Linked DNA regions of Homo sapiens. The protein of the gene in region 2 interacts with the protein of the main gene of each other region in a pairwise test. Each region holds a gene or a part of one and is shown on either strand. Other genes may lie near its edges.

What was found.
Region 1: the proteins of PARP11 (region 2) and LHX4 interact in binary tests that used the Homo sapiens proteins (3 or more experiments, as listed by UniProt).
Region 3: the proteins of PARP11 (region 2) and CHAT interact in binary tests that used the Homo sapiens proteins (3 or more experiments, as listed by UniProt).

Annotation. Positions count from the first base shown.
Region 1 is NC_000001.11:180,267,985-180,272,627, reverse strand, and holds part of LHX4 (LIM/homeobox protein Lhx4), read right to left. Parts: intron 2,976-4,643; exon of another isoform or gene 1,249-2,975; coding exon 1,094-1,248; exon of another isoform or gene 794-1,093; coding exon 622-793; exon of another isoform or gene 1-621. UniProt on the Homo sapiens protein: May play a critical role in the development of respiratory control mechanisms and in the normal growth and maturation of the lung. Binds preferentially to methylated DNA.
Region 2 is NC_000012.12:3,831,152-3,835,794, forward strand, and holds part of PARP11 (protein mono-ADP-ribosyltransferase PARP11), read right to left. Parts: intron 1-4,643. UniProt on the Homo sapiens protein: Mono-ADP-ribosyltransferase that mediates mono-ADP-ribosylation of target proteins. Plays a role in nuclear envelope stability and nuclear remodeling during spermiogenesis. Inhibits the type I interferon activated signaling pathway.
Region 3 is NC_000010.11:49,612,412-49,617,700, reverse strand, and holds the start of CHAT (choline O-acetyltransferase), read right to left. Parts: upstream 3,665-5,289; 5' UTR 3,512-3,664; coding exon 3,226-3,511; intron 1,679-3,225; exon of another isoform or gene 1,649-1,678; coding exon of another isoform or gene 1,609-1,648; intron 1,200-1,608; coding exon 1,099-1,199; intron 1-1,098. UniProt on the Homo sapiens protein: Catalyzes the reversible synthesis of acetylcholine (ACh) from acetyl CoA and choline at cholinergic synapses.

The DNA.
Region 1 (4,643 bases), on a different chromosome or scaffold from region 2:
GATTCATAACATGCAGTAATTTACAATTTTGCTGATGCATGAATTTGAATATAGTGCATGCTGCAAAGCTTGTGTGCAGGGGACAGAATGAAGTGAGTGGTGGGGAAAGGGATTTCGGAAGTGAAGCCAGTTCCCCATCTCACATGCACTCACAGTACTGATTTCCCAGGAAAAAACCTGTGGAGCATGACCTCCCCACCACCAGGACTGGAGGAAGGGGTGGCTCTAGGGGACTATGGGAGTAGGCCAGTGTCCCAGCAAAGGGGACAAAGATGGGAGAGGGGCTAGGGGCACAAGGCTGGAACCCAGTCATCTGTTCATAGCTGTGTGGGCTGATGAGGGAGGCCCCAGTCAGCAGGAGGGGAGGGGAGACCTTGGGGCCACAGGACGGGGCCTGGCCCATCCCAGCTTCCAGACCTCAGCAATCTTGTTTCCTACTCCTGTCCCATGGTAAAGGGCCACTACCATTTCCCCCACCCTTCACTGCAAGTCTTAAGGAAAAGCCTGTGTTCAGGAGGGAGTTGCCAAGGCCTCAAGAAAGATCCCTCCTGAGTGCCAGGGATTACAGATTCCCAGGGGACTTTCCTAAGGCCTCGGCCTGGCCCCTCCAGCCCTGCTCACCTCGGAAGCTCAGCTCACTGTCACTAACCCCACAGTCCTCTGCAGAGCTCTCCTTCTCCTGCTTGCTGCTGCCCCGGCTCCTCTTGACGCTCTTATAGAACTGCCCCCAGCGGTGCCGCCCTGCATCCTTCTTCAGGCGTTTCTCTTTGGCCCTTCTGTTCTGAAACCAAACCTGCCACACAAGCACAAGGGACATACTCAGGGGGCGTCCACCACAAACCCAAAGCCCCCAGGACCCCCTAGGCGGGCGGCTGGAAGCAGACTGAAGCCTGAATGGAGCACAGGTCTGGGAGTGCGATGCGCCCCACCCCCTCTCCCCAGGTGGGCCTCAGAACTCTGTCTTCAGTTCTGGCAAAAGCCCTGGGGTCAAGCCCTGAGCCCAACCACCCGTGAGCTGATGTCACTCAGGATACCTTCCACCCCTGTCCCGGGCCTGGGATCCCCGGAGGGCACAGGAGTGCTGGCATCTCACCTGTACGACCCTCATGTCCAGGCCTGTCTCTGAGGACAGCTGCTCCCTCACGTGCCGGGCAGGCTTGGGGGAGTTCTTGTATGCATTCTTTAATGTCTCCAGCTGCTTGGCTGTGATGGTGGTCCGGGGCCGCTTAGCTCCAGCCTCTGAGTCATCTGCAAGGAAAAACCACTGCTTACTGGCTTCGGCCTATCTGCAGCAGCTGCGCCTCCTCCCACACCCTCCCTTCCATCCTTTCTGCACCTAAGCCTGCCTGCTGTAGGCAGGACAGCGCGAGGCACAGGGGACATCAGAGTGGAGAGGTCCCCACTCTCATGGCACTGACTCCTGCACCACGGGCCTTCCCAAGCCACTGAAAAGTGAGGACAGCAGTCCTTTCTCTGCTCAGCTCCCTGCCTCAACCCTCCCCTGCCAGCCCAGCTGCACAGAAGTCTCATCAGATTGAATGTACCCAATTCCACACGTCCCTGTCATGACAAACACTCTGCTCACACATCCTCATGAGTTCTTGCCAGAGCTGTGAAGGTGAACAGCCAGGTTGAAGTCATGTTCAAAGTCGCCCCAGATGCCCTCCCCTCTGTCTCATCAGGAGTCTCCCATTTCCCCACAGCCATGTCACCTTTGCCCTGGCGTCGCTGGGCTCACAGCCAGGGGTGAGCTTGCACACCCAACAGTGTCTAAGCAGGTTTCTAAACTATAGGTCAGAACCCACTCGTGGGCTGTAAAGTCACCTTAGTGGATCAAAACTAAAACAGGAAATCAGATGAAGAGAATGGGATGGAATGGCAAGATCATTTCATTAAACTTTAGTTTTTATTGTATAAATATGTGTACTGAGATGAAATGTAAAATGAGTTTTACTGTGGATTGTAGTCAAAATTTTTTGAGAAAACTAGTCTAAGGAATGTTCTGGGCAACACACTGACTGATCAACACAAAGTCCTAGACAGATTTTGAGTGAACAAGCTCAAGTTCCTGTTAGTTAAAGTCTGGTTTGTTCCATTCAAAGTCAGGTACAGAGAGAGGCGCGTGCGTGTGTTCGGAAGCACAGGTGAATGTAAAGGTTTGTTTCCTCTCCCAGCACTTAGGCATACTGCCCTTTTCTCCACAGTGCCCCTGGAGGACACACGGAATAAAGTCAGCAGCTGGCCTGGGCAGCTCTGCTCTCTGTGCTTGCTCACCTGTGTGCCCCAGAAGGTGTCTCTGTGACATTCCTGACTTCCTCTCTGTCTTTTCTCCTTTCTTTCCATTCAAGAAAACCCTCTCTTAGAAACAATAGTAGCCAACATGTGTTAGCACCTACCATGTGCTGGTGTTGACTAAGGACTTTATATGCATTCGGTCCTCACAATCTACAAGGCTCTCCCTGGAGTCAGCAGACCTGGCTTCAGTGTTCTTGATGAGTGAGTGACTTGGGCCAGTAACTCACTTCCCCCTTGGAAGTCCAGAGGGCAACACGGCCTGCCCTGATCTTGGGAGGCACTAGAGGAATGAAGCAGCTGTGCAGCCAGGACATGTGTGTACACAGTGAGGGGGGACACACCCGTGCCTTCCCTTCTCCTCGGGCTGTTTTCTTCTCTCACGTGGCCACTGTCATCCCGGAACTACTGTGGCCCAACTCCCTCCCTGAAGCCCTGAACCCGAAGGGTAGGGATTCCGGAGCCCCTGCCACAGAGACTACACTACTTAGAGAGTCATTCCAAAAGACAAAGGGGAACCTCCAAAATGCCTTCCTTTTCATTCTGAGGAGTCTGTCCCTTCTGTGCATATTTATAGTCTACACGGGAGTGTCTGATGCAACTTTGAATTATGCAAATGGGAAATAGTGCACTTGTGTACAATCTTTATATTAAAAAATGTGAAATAATGCAATCACCAAAAATGTTTTAATTTCTCGAGAATCACTTAATTTCAAAATAGCTTGGCCTACGGAATTATAAATTCTTTTCACCACAGCCAGATGGTAGCGCCACTGGGATAGACCCGTCATCCTGGTTGGTGGCCCGCTGGTTCGGCACTGCTACACACACAGGATTTTCTTCTTGCAATGATGGGGACTAATATGCTGTTATTTTAACATTCACTGTTATTATAATTTAAAATCTTTTTTATATCCCATAACAATGTCATCCAAGTATTCATTAAGTAGCAGTGGCAGTGCTCGTGCTGAAAAATGTACCCAAAAATCAATAACTTTGGTACGGAAGTTAAATGTGACAAAACGCTATGAGGAAGGCCAAGGGAGCCCATGATACCCTGGGCTGTTAATTTAGGAGAGAGCGTTCTGCAAGGTATTCAAGATAATGCTGAGAAAATAAAAAGTAGCATTAAGGCAAAGATACACTTCACTGGTTATGGATTTATGTGCTCTCAGAATATACCACCCCCCCCCCCACACACTCTACATTAATTCCTACAGGAAAATTAGTCTTAAAATATGTTAGTTTTGAATGATGCAGGGTCTCCTAGAACTTGTCCCTGGCATAAAACGCAACCTCATTATATTGAAAATGCAAATATCCAGGGAGACGGAACAAGTGAACAAAATCATTCACACTAAGGTGCAAGTAACTGCTCTGAGATCCTTTGTTTAGCTAATGGGAGGGAACTGTAAGCCTGCAGGAGGGCTGAGAGTAGCAAGGAGGAATTAAAACAACCTGAAAAGACAGCCAGGCATTCTGCAGTGGACAGAACTCCCCGCTGCTCCAAGGATCACCGATTGCCCAGGACAGAGGAGCCCTGCCTTGCTCACAGCCAGGGTGGGGTCAGGAAAGGACCCGGGGAACAGGCCAGAAATACTGTGTAACATTCCGCTGCTTTAAAACCTCAAGCACACCTCACCTCCCTGTTTGCACTTCTCCTCCACGTCAGTCTCTTATTTCACATCCCATTTCACAAGCCTCATCCTATTTAAACCTCAGGAAAACAGCCCTACGTGGCAGATGCTATGATCCTCCATAGACAGCTGAGAAGCCGAGGGTCAGCCAGTTCTACAACTTGCCAGGAGATCTCCCTGTGTGGGGGGATGCCCAGCCAGCTTCTGACAGCAAGTCCGGCATCTTCCATCATCCTGCAGAGGTCTGCTGTGGTGCAAATATTCCTCGATAAAACTGTGAGCACCACAATGTCATTCCCACCTCCCCAGCCAGATTCTGACCAATCTACATCTGTTTCTCTTGTCTCTTGAACCACCCACAACATCAGGAGATGCTGAGCTGAGAGTGCTCAGAGTCCAAATGAGGCCTCTGATGAGAACCAGCTGCAGGCCGGGGAGGTCGTGCCATCTTAGTATCTCTGATGAACGGCACTAGACTTCCAAAGGTGTCTTGGTATCTCTGAGTCCATCTGCTGTGATGGTTCATCCCTGACAAGTTGCCCTAATCTCCCATGACATCACAATTGACTTCAAGGCAATAGCATGGAGTGAGTTTTAAGAAACCAGAGCAGATTAGTACATTGCAGGCAAAGAGCCTTGGGATGGGTTTGCAGAGGCCCCAGGTCTCTGGAGGAAGGAGGTCAAAGGCCTCTGTCCACCCTGAAAGGCCAGAGC
Region 2 (4,643 bases):
AGACTTTTTTAACCATCACTTCCATTCCTGGTACCTTCTCACTTTTCTTCTCCAGGGTTAGCCAATGCTATAATTTCACTGCATATCTTTCAGATCTCTCTCTCTCTCTCACTCTGTTTGTGTGTGTATAATTATACACACATAAAAACATATAGAGTTATTGATGATTTGTTAAAAATTTGATTTCCTGTATCATTGATTTTTTTAACAAAGAATATGTACTACTGGGTAATTTAGAAAATATTTGCCTTTTAATTTCATCATTTAAAATGTCCATCCTATTTTTAGAAGCTGTAGCAACCTGGAATAAGTTTCAATTGCCTTGTCTAGGCCACAGTTGGCTCTTCACAAAATGAAAAATGATAGACTCCTTCCTCATTGGGATGTTGTTATAAATGAATGAGACAATGTTATAAATGAACGAGACAAGTTCATTTATAACAGTGCCTGACCTCAATGAAGGGGGTTTGTTATTTTTTATATATGTTTGGAAACTCAAGCAATGCTTTATGATTATTTCCCATTTTTTTCTTCATGTTTTAAATTTGGTTGGCTTCTAAGAAATGAAAAATAGAACACCCTAGGATCAAAGCCTTCTGGTTTAGGACCCACTATTTACCTTATATATTTTAACCACATAATAAAGACAATGATTTAAAGTTTAAGACCAAACTGTCCAGTAAACTATTCACAATTCCTACTGCTTTTTTTTATTAATGTTCATTTCATTGGGCCATTTAACTGTGAGAAAGAGAGAAGGAAAGAAAGTGTGACCTAAATTTAGTTTTTCTTCTGAAAATAACCAGAAAAATTTGGAAGAATGAGATTGGAGCTAATAGTTAAGAAAAATATTTGCCTTACGAGTTCTATCTTTTCTCTATTAGAAAAGAGAATAGAAAATAGGAAAGTTCCCTTTATACAGCATACATATAACATGTGTGCTCCGCTATAAAACACCTTACCTAAGACTTCGCTTTAGGCCAGGTTATAAATGAAAGTGTTTCAGCAACATCCTTTCAGAGCTTTCTGTTATAAATCGCTTTGGGTGGGACAGGTACCATTGTATTGAACATTCCTAAAGCACTTCAAATCTTATACAATTCCTTATCAAATTACACTATTTTTTTCGTCCACAATCCAATGTGCAGGAGAGATAAGTGATTATTTTCCAATTAAAGTCAGGAAAAAAACCGAAGCAGAGAATAATACAATTTTTTGTCTAGATTCACAGCTAGCAGTACAGAGAATATTAAAGCAACACCTAAGGCCTCCTGAACATCACTTCTTCCCCTAAGTTACCAAGCCCCACTGTCTCCTTTTCACACATGGACAGTTATTTCTCCTCTCCTATGTTGCTAACATTTAGTTTAATTGCTTTGCTTCACAGATGCTCTGGGTTTCTTTAAAAAGATGCATTTTATAAGATTAAACATTTCCATTTTCTACAGTAAGTTTTCTCTCCAAAGAAATGACTATTTTGCATAATTATGCTCAAAGAGTTAAGTCAAATTTAAATTAATAACTTTAAAATATCGCAACCATAGTAAGAATGGCTCTAGGCTAGGACACATTTATAGGTAATAAAAAGAATATTCACCAGTTATCGGTTATGAAGCAGGTATTTAATAATGTTAGATGAATGAACTTGTTCAGTCACAATGCCATATCCTGTCTGATTTTCCTGTTTGTAATTAGAAGCAGGCTGGGAAGAAGAAAAAGCTAGTACAAAGCGGCAAAGCATTTTGTAAAGTTTCAAGGGCAATGGGTATGCTGGTAGAGCCTGTCCGTAATGTTATCTGTTACAAAGAGAATCTTTATTTACAGAGCCTGGGAACAGTCAGTCTGAATCATCAAATTGAAAAGCTGTGTGGAAAATGAGTTTAAAGTCAAAATCCTGGTCTATATAAGGAAAATAAGGCTGCCTTCCAGACTGGTTTCAAGTTTTCTGATATAAATTTTAGTTTACTACAACAAAGTATAATTTATTTTGTTAGCATGAGTATAGTATCTTCAGGAAATCATATTTGGTAATAACAACTTCCTTGCCTCTACATATAAAGAAGATCTCAAACCTGATCTTAAAAGCTTAAAAATGAACGAGAACTTCCAGAATGACAGAATAAGGAGCTCAGTGGAACTGGCAAAACTACATTTTAAAAACTAGTAGGCCGGGCGTGGTAGCTCACACCTGTTATCCCAGGGCTTTGGTGAGGCTGAGAAGGGAGGTTTGCATGAGGCCAGGAGTTTGAGGCAAGCCTGGCAACACAGTGAGACTCCATCTCTACAAAAAAATAAAATAAAAATTACTCAGGCATGCTGATGCATGCTTATAGTCCTAGCCCCTTGAGAGGCTGAGATGGAAGGATTACTTGAGCCTAGGAGTTTGAGGCTGCAGTGAGCTAACATCACGCCACTGCACTCCAGCTTGACACGGCAGAACCCTGCCTCACAAAAATTAATTAATTAAAAATTAAAAACTGCTGAAAATTTTTTTAAAAAACAAACATTTAAAGTCTCTGGAAACTGTACTAAGGGCATACAAAAAGTGGAGAAACATTCATTCAAGAAAATGTACTCAATCTCAGAACAAGTCAGAGTCTGTGGCGTTTGAGTTACAAACTGCACCATTCCCCACATCCTACCAGGTCTGTATTATGAAGCCTCTACCTGCGGTATATGTACCCAAAAGACAGGCAGAGGGCTCCCTCTCCCTCAGGCTTCCAGTCTGTGGCTAGTTTTACCCCGGGAAGGGCAGGCTGCTGGTGTTTCTCCTCTCCTTCAGCCCAGAGGTGTAGAAGCTCTGTTCTGGAGAGGTGACACAGAGGACCCGTCTCTCTTTCCCTACACAGCCCCCATTCAAAAGGTAGAATTTCTATTCCAGGTACAGCAGGCTGCAAATACTGGGCCCTGACTGCCACCGCCCCAACTTCCTCCCAGAGTAGAGGTTTTGTGCCAGGAGCAGTCAGCTAAGAAGACCAAGGGCTGCTACCAGCACTCCACTGCCCACTCTAAGAATGGAGTGTTACTCTGGGGAAAAAAGACTCTCACCTTCAGCCCCAGGAGCAGTGGCATGGAGACTTTGCTCAGGGGTAAAGACGAGCCATAAGGACAAAGAGCTCTACATTTCCATCTGAGAGGACTGACTTTATTTGGAACAGAGAGCAGAACCCCATGCCTAAGGGCATTATCAAAAACAGTGGGCCGGGTGTGGTGGTTCATGCCTGTGATCCCAGCACTTTGGGAGGCCAAGATGGGCAGATCACCTGAGGCCAGGAGTTTGAGACCAGCCTGGCCAACATGGTGAAACCCCAACTCTACAAAAAATACAAAACATTAGCCAGGTGTGGTGGCGTGCACCTGTAGTTCCAGCTACTCAGGAGGCCGAGAGAAGAGAACTGATTGAACCCAGGAGGCAAAGGTTTCAGTGAGCCAAGATCACACCATTGCACTCCAGCCTGGGCGACAAGAGCGACACTCCATCTCAAAAAAAAAAAAAAAAAGAAAGAAAGAAAACAGTGGAAATATTAATGAAAAACAATTAAGAAAGGCTAGGAGCTCCAATATAAGCAGAAAGGCAGAGCAAGCAGAAGTTTAATGCAGAGAACCAGAGACAGCCAAGAAGAGCCCTCTTAGATCAGAGAGGAGTCAGAAAGGCAGTATAAAAACACTAGGCTGTGTACACCCAGGAATGATCAGGGCAGAACGTGGGGCAGTCTTGAAAACGTTCTCTAAGCTATACACGTACCCACTGACAGAGCGGAGAAACTTCATTGGCACAAGGGTCTGAATCACCACCTCTGGCCAAACACGACGTAACAGAAGCTACTCTGACCCAGGGGTAATTCCTATGAAGCCAGGGTTAAATGAAACAGCACTGTCATCCCTGACAGTCTGGAACACTGTGTACATGCTCAAGGTTGGGCCCTCTCAGGAACTAACTTCCAAGCTTCTAGCACCTGGCTAAATGCAGGACAAAAAAAAATGTAAACTCCCTGAACTATAATAGCAGCCACCAAGCCACACACACATTTAACACTTAAGGGTAAAAATCTACCTACCTCAGGGAATGTAAGCACAACCTGTGACCAGTACATAGTCTATGCCAATCCAGAAATGCCACATAAGTAGTCAGGTTAAGAGGGGAAAAGTCTGAGCTGGGATATCAGAAGCTACACACTGTGAGGAAAATGGACTTTACAGAATTTGTTCAGCTATATCACTGTTATATACACATAAACCAATAACCAAACAAACAACCACAATAGGGATCAGTATCCAGAGTTGCTATGTTACTTAAAATATCCAGTTCTCAACAAAAAAATTATGAGACATAAAAAAACTTCATAAAGATGTGATCAATACACATAGAAAACCAAAAGAAGCTGCCTCTAGATGAGGCACAGGTGGTAGACTGGGCAAACAAACACTTCAAAGCAATTATTACAAATATGCTCAAAGACATAAATGAAACTTTGCTTAACAGGTTAAGGGAAATTATGATGACAATGTCTCATCAAATAAATAATATCAATAAAGAGAGAAATAATTTAAGATAATCAAATGGAAATTCTGGAGTTGAAAAGTATAGTAAGTAAAATGAAACACTCTAGAAAGGCTCAGTGGTAGATTTGTGAACAAGAAAA
Region 3 (5,289 bases), on a different chromosome or scaffold from region 2:
CCCAGCCCAGTTAGTGACCTGGCCAAAAGGGCCCACAAGTCTGGCTAGATCCTCTGCCAGACACTGCTCCCCTTCTTCCAGGCTCTGACAGTGCGCTGTGACTTAGCCTGGCTAACAGGGAATCAGCAGTGGGTAAAAAGGAATAAAGCAGGAAATCGCAGCTCAGACATCTCAACCCCCCAGGGATCCTCCCCAGACTCTCCTGGACTTCTGGCCCTGTGCTAAGGAGTGTCTTTGGACCTGGGAGTCTCAGATCAATGCTCCAAAACTCCATGTTTCCTGGGCAGTTCATGTGAGTCAGATCCTGGGCTGGACTCAGAGACGATGGAGAAACAGAGCCTGCTCTGAAGGAAGCCACAGCCCAATGGGGTGGGTAGAGAAGCATGCCAGTGGACCAGAGGTGACAATAGATGTTTGTCAGCTGCAGAATTCAGGGCAATGGAGTGAACAGCTTCTTGGGGAGAAGCCAGAAAATTCTGCTCAGGGTTTCAAATGAGGGCTGGGGGAAAGGGGAAGGGGGAAGGGGGAAGAGGAGTGGCAAAAAGACAAGTGTGGGAGAGGGGAAACACATGCAACCACCTGAAGTCAGGTGTGTTGCTCTGCCACCCGAAGGCTGGCTGGGGCGGGAGGGAGGATGCCTGCCCAGGGAGGATGGCATTGTCTCAGGCCAGTGGAGAACATGGTGCCTAAGGCTCCAAGGCTGAACTAGTGATAGCAGCTGGAGCTGGGACTTGCAGGGCTTGGAGTAGGAATTCAGCCCCACCCTAAGGCAAAATCACTGGGCTCAAAGCTATCAGAAGTGGAAGCTGGGATGAAGAGAGGCCCTGGAAGGAAAGATAGGGCCTAGCCTGGCCAGGGGATTTGGAAGTTAAGCTCTTAGCATTTCCTTGGCACCCTGAGGCCCGTCTCAGCCCCTCCAGGCCCTTCTGGGATCCTCAGCAAGCTGGGGGTGGAGCTGTAGCCTGGGCCTTGTGCCAGTAGAGGGCAGGGCTGGGGCCAGGCAAATGCTGGGGGCCAGTCCCACTCAGGACTGTTCTAGAAGCAAGGGCATGTAGGTGGGGAAAGCAGGGTTGAGAGAGGGCTCCAAAAGTCACTCACAGACTCCTCACTGCTGGGAGTTTTTGCTGCCATCTTACGGGGGACCTTTTCCAGGATGGGCGTCTTGGTGAGTCCTGGTGCAGGGATGCAGAGGTGTGGACCTGGGGACCAAGAAGTGGGAAGCATCAACACAGCAGCCACATAGGCCTGTCACAAACCCTCCACCTCCCGCCAACAGACCCCCACCCCAGCCCCATGAGGAGGCCAGAGCCTGACAGCTGTGTATAGGGGTCTCATTGCAGGCGTGGCCCCAGTCTCTACTTCCACCTGTACGTGCTGACCACAGTGTTCTCTCTGGGCCCCCATATGGGAGAGAGTGGTTCCTAAAGTGAGGGTCTGCTCTCATGAGTCTGTTGTCACCCAAGGCCAGCTGACCACCCTGGGGCAATCCAAATCCACCAGGGGTTGCTGGCAGAGTGCTGCCTTTGTTCCTGCCTGGAACCCAATAGATAAGTGCTTTGCCAATCAAACTCTCTCTTTCCCACTAGCTTCTCAAGGGTAAGACCATACCTACTGTGCTCAGTGCTTCATCTCTGCATTCCGGCCACATCTCTGGTGTGGAGTAGGGTGAATTCCCTCACTCCGTTGGTGGAGGGAAAGGAATGCATGCGTGGGTGAATGGAGGCCTTTAAGGCCCTGTGCTCCAGGATGCATCTGGGCTAATTGGGAGCCTGGCCTGTGGCCAGGGCAGGGAGACTCTGGGCCTGCTGGAGGCGTTGTGACCTAGGCAGTCTCGGGTCTGCAGGCTGCCAGTGTAGATGCCATAGGAGTGCCCAGGGAGGTATGCAGGGAGGCTGGGCAGCCAGGGCCCCTAGGGGCCACCTGCCTTAGTCTGGGGAGAGGCAGATTAATTTTGAAGGTACAGTAGAAGTGAGCCAGGCCAAGAGGGCAAAGACTGTTATTATTAGGCTGTGGGTCACAATTGCTACCCTCTGAGATCCCCCTGAACCTAAGCCTCCACAGGCACATACTCATGTTTTCCACCAGCCCACCCTCTATTCTCTCAAGTCTAAAGCTGAGGTTTAGCTAATTTCCTCACCCCTCTCCCCACCCAACACCACCCCTACCCAGAGGCAAGCACCGCCCATGTATGGGCACCTGGCAGGGTTGTTGCCAGGAACAGAGAGTCCAGAAAGATGGATGAACCAGGCCCAAGGATGGAGGAGCCTGGGGCTGCCTTGCAGTGCTGGGCAGAGAATGTAAAGCCCTTGCTGGCACAGTGCAGGGACACTCTCCACAGGCTTGTTCCCACGCCTCCCAGTGCTGTGGGTTCGTAGGGGCTGCCCCCAACTGCAAAGTGAAAGAGGTGGCGTCCTGGTGAGGATTCACCGGAGCATGGCAGTCTTTTGAGAGGACAGCAAGGACAAGGTCAGGTTGGTAAAGGCCCTACAGACCATGCAGCCAATGCCTCCTTTTGCTCTGGCCCAGAGCCCCCCCCTCCCCCCCATTCGGGAGACACTAGTCAGGCTTCAGGGACCCTGAGCTTGAAGAAGGCAGAGCTGGGTGGGATGGTTTCCTGGTGGTCCCACCTACCAACTCTTCTTCCTCCATCACTCCTGGGCAGATGCCTAGAGGATGTATGTGTATATATGTCTGTTTGTGTTTTGTGCCTCCCACCCATGCTCCTGCCAGCCTGGCTTTCCAAGGGCTGCCTGCTCTGCCCCGAAGGTCCAACCCCAGTCTGGCCGGTCATTCACAGGCTGTCATCGGCTATGTCCTGGCTCAGACTTGCCACCAGCCACTGCTCCTCCTTCCCCACCCCCTGCTCCCGGGAGAAGCGGTTGCCAACCAGCAATTCAGGCGAGTCGGGTCAGACCCAAGGACCCTCCGACTAGACACAGAAAGCGCGGACCTGGTCACTTAGCAGATGCTGGGCCAAGTGAAGTGAGAACATGCGCTTGGAGTCCCGAAGCCCTGATGGTTAAGCCTCCCCAAGCCCAGGCACCGAAGCAACGCAATCCTGCAGCTTCCTAGCTGACCCCCGACGGCCGCTGCTGCGCAGGACTCAGAGGACTCCACGAGTCCTGGGGCCTCTCGGCCCCGGTGCTGTCCCTGGATAGAGCCCCCGACCGCCGCCCTTGCTCCCGGCACCGCGCTCCGCCAGCCCAGCCCAGCCCTTCTTCTCACCTGCTCTCCTCGGCTCTGCTGCCTCGGCCGACGCTGCACCGCACCACTCAGGAGTGTGGGCGGGGGTGTGAGCCGGAAGGGGTGGGGGGCGTGTCGCAGCGCGGGGGTGGGGGCTGCAGCCTGGGTTCCCGGCAGGGCCTCCGACGTCGCCCGGGTCCCCGCGGCCACCCGACTGGAGAAAGCAAGCTGGCCGCACTTCTCTCCTTCCTCTTGTACCTCCTCCCTCCTCTCTCTTCCATTTCCCCCCTCCCCCAAGCCCCCTCTTCTTCGCTGTCCTCAGCCCCATCCCTTCCCCAGCTCCCCGCCCAGGGATCTCAGCTCCCGGCCCCCAGAATCTACCCGGAGCGCTTCCCGGAGGAACTCGGGCAACAAATTTAGGCTCTAGAAGGGGGCACAGAACACTGTCCCGCCCATGCCTCCTGCCCCTAGCTCAGCATTTCCCAGTCACCGCACTTCCCCAACCCCATTATTCCAGCCTTGGGGTGCTGCTGCTGAATCCTGGAGAGGGTTGGGTCTGAGGAAGTCTCTGCTCGCTGCCCTCCTCTCCCCACCATCCAGGCCAGTCTCAAACCCTGCTACACCATCTTTCAAAATAATAATAAGAAACAATAACTGGGATCAATATTCACTGCAGGACTTCCCTTTCTGTTACCATCCCATTCCTGCTGGCACTATGGGGTGGGGAGCAGAGGTGGGGTGCTACAGACTTGGGACAATCCTGATGGCAGACCTGAGGATGCTTAAGGACTGCGGCAAGAGGCAGGCTCTCCTCTCAGACAAAAGCATCCCCCACCCCAGATAGAGACCCCCACACAGAAATAGCACAGACAGACCGACAAAGGCAGACTCCGCCCAGGCACACACAGCCCGACTCGCAGATCGAGGACAGACATGCGCACAACAGCAGAGCAGACCCTCACAGGCGCAGCTAACACACAGGCGACCCTGACCAGCCGCCTCTTCACGCTATGATGGGAAGACTCTGCCTCGATCATCAGACTACGGTCTTCGGGACATGGAGTGTTGCGCGAACGCTGGCTTGAGGCTCTCAGGGCTGGGACTAAGGATGGGAAACTTTCCTGACAGTCCTGGGCCGCTGCTCCCACTCAGGACAGGGTGGCAGTGGGGGTTGGCACCAGATCCCACACTCGCATCTCTCCCTTCAAGACTCAGACCCTCGGGACTGACAGGGATACAGCAAACACCAACCACGGCTCCCCCACTCCTCCTAGGACAAGTTCTCTAATGAACACACACATCACATCATACACACATTTCCAGAGGTCGGACTCTAAAAGATGGGCCGTTTTTCTTCCTCTGCCGGAATGCTCGGCTCCTACTCCTTTCTCAAAGCCTCAACGGGGCGGGATTCTGGTCTGAAGGGAAGCTCAGCCCAGGCACCTCAGAGCTCTGAGGCTGGTGTGGGGCGTGTCCTCAAAGGGCGGGGCCTGGCGTGCCTAGCTGGAGCGGGTCCTCAGGCTCCCCCGGGCGGCATCCCCGGGCTCTGCGCTAGGCCTGGAAAAGAGGGTCTATCCTGGGCTGAGGGGAGCATGGTGCTCCTTGGTGACCGTGGGTGACAGCCTTTGTTGGGTTTGCTTCCTTCCTATCCCCTTTTCCAGGTAGAAAAACAGCTACAGGTGCCTACGTGTTAGTTTGGCTTAGGTCTGGATTGGGACTTGGAGACCCAGTTCACCCTCCCCTCTGCTCTGGCCCTGCGCGCCTCCACGCACCCCCCACCAGTAAAGAGACTCGGCCTCCTGGGACAGACACAGTTTATTGATTTGGGCGGAGGCGCCGCGGTGCAGCGGCCCAAGTTTGGCACTGGGAGCAATGGAAGGAAGGACAGACAGATGCAGGCTCTACACAGGGGAGCCGCAGGTGGGGACTCAGGGTCCTCTTCACCTCCGCAAGGAGCGCGATGGCTTCGCTGGCCTCGGTGCTCCAAGCCCCATTGGACAAGAGAGAAAGGGATATGGAACGGGTCACAGGGAGGGGATTTGGGCAGAAGTCAAGGTTGAGGAGTGGCTGGGGTACTCGCTGGAGGAGGTGGGCCCTGAGCCAGAG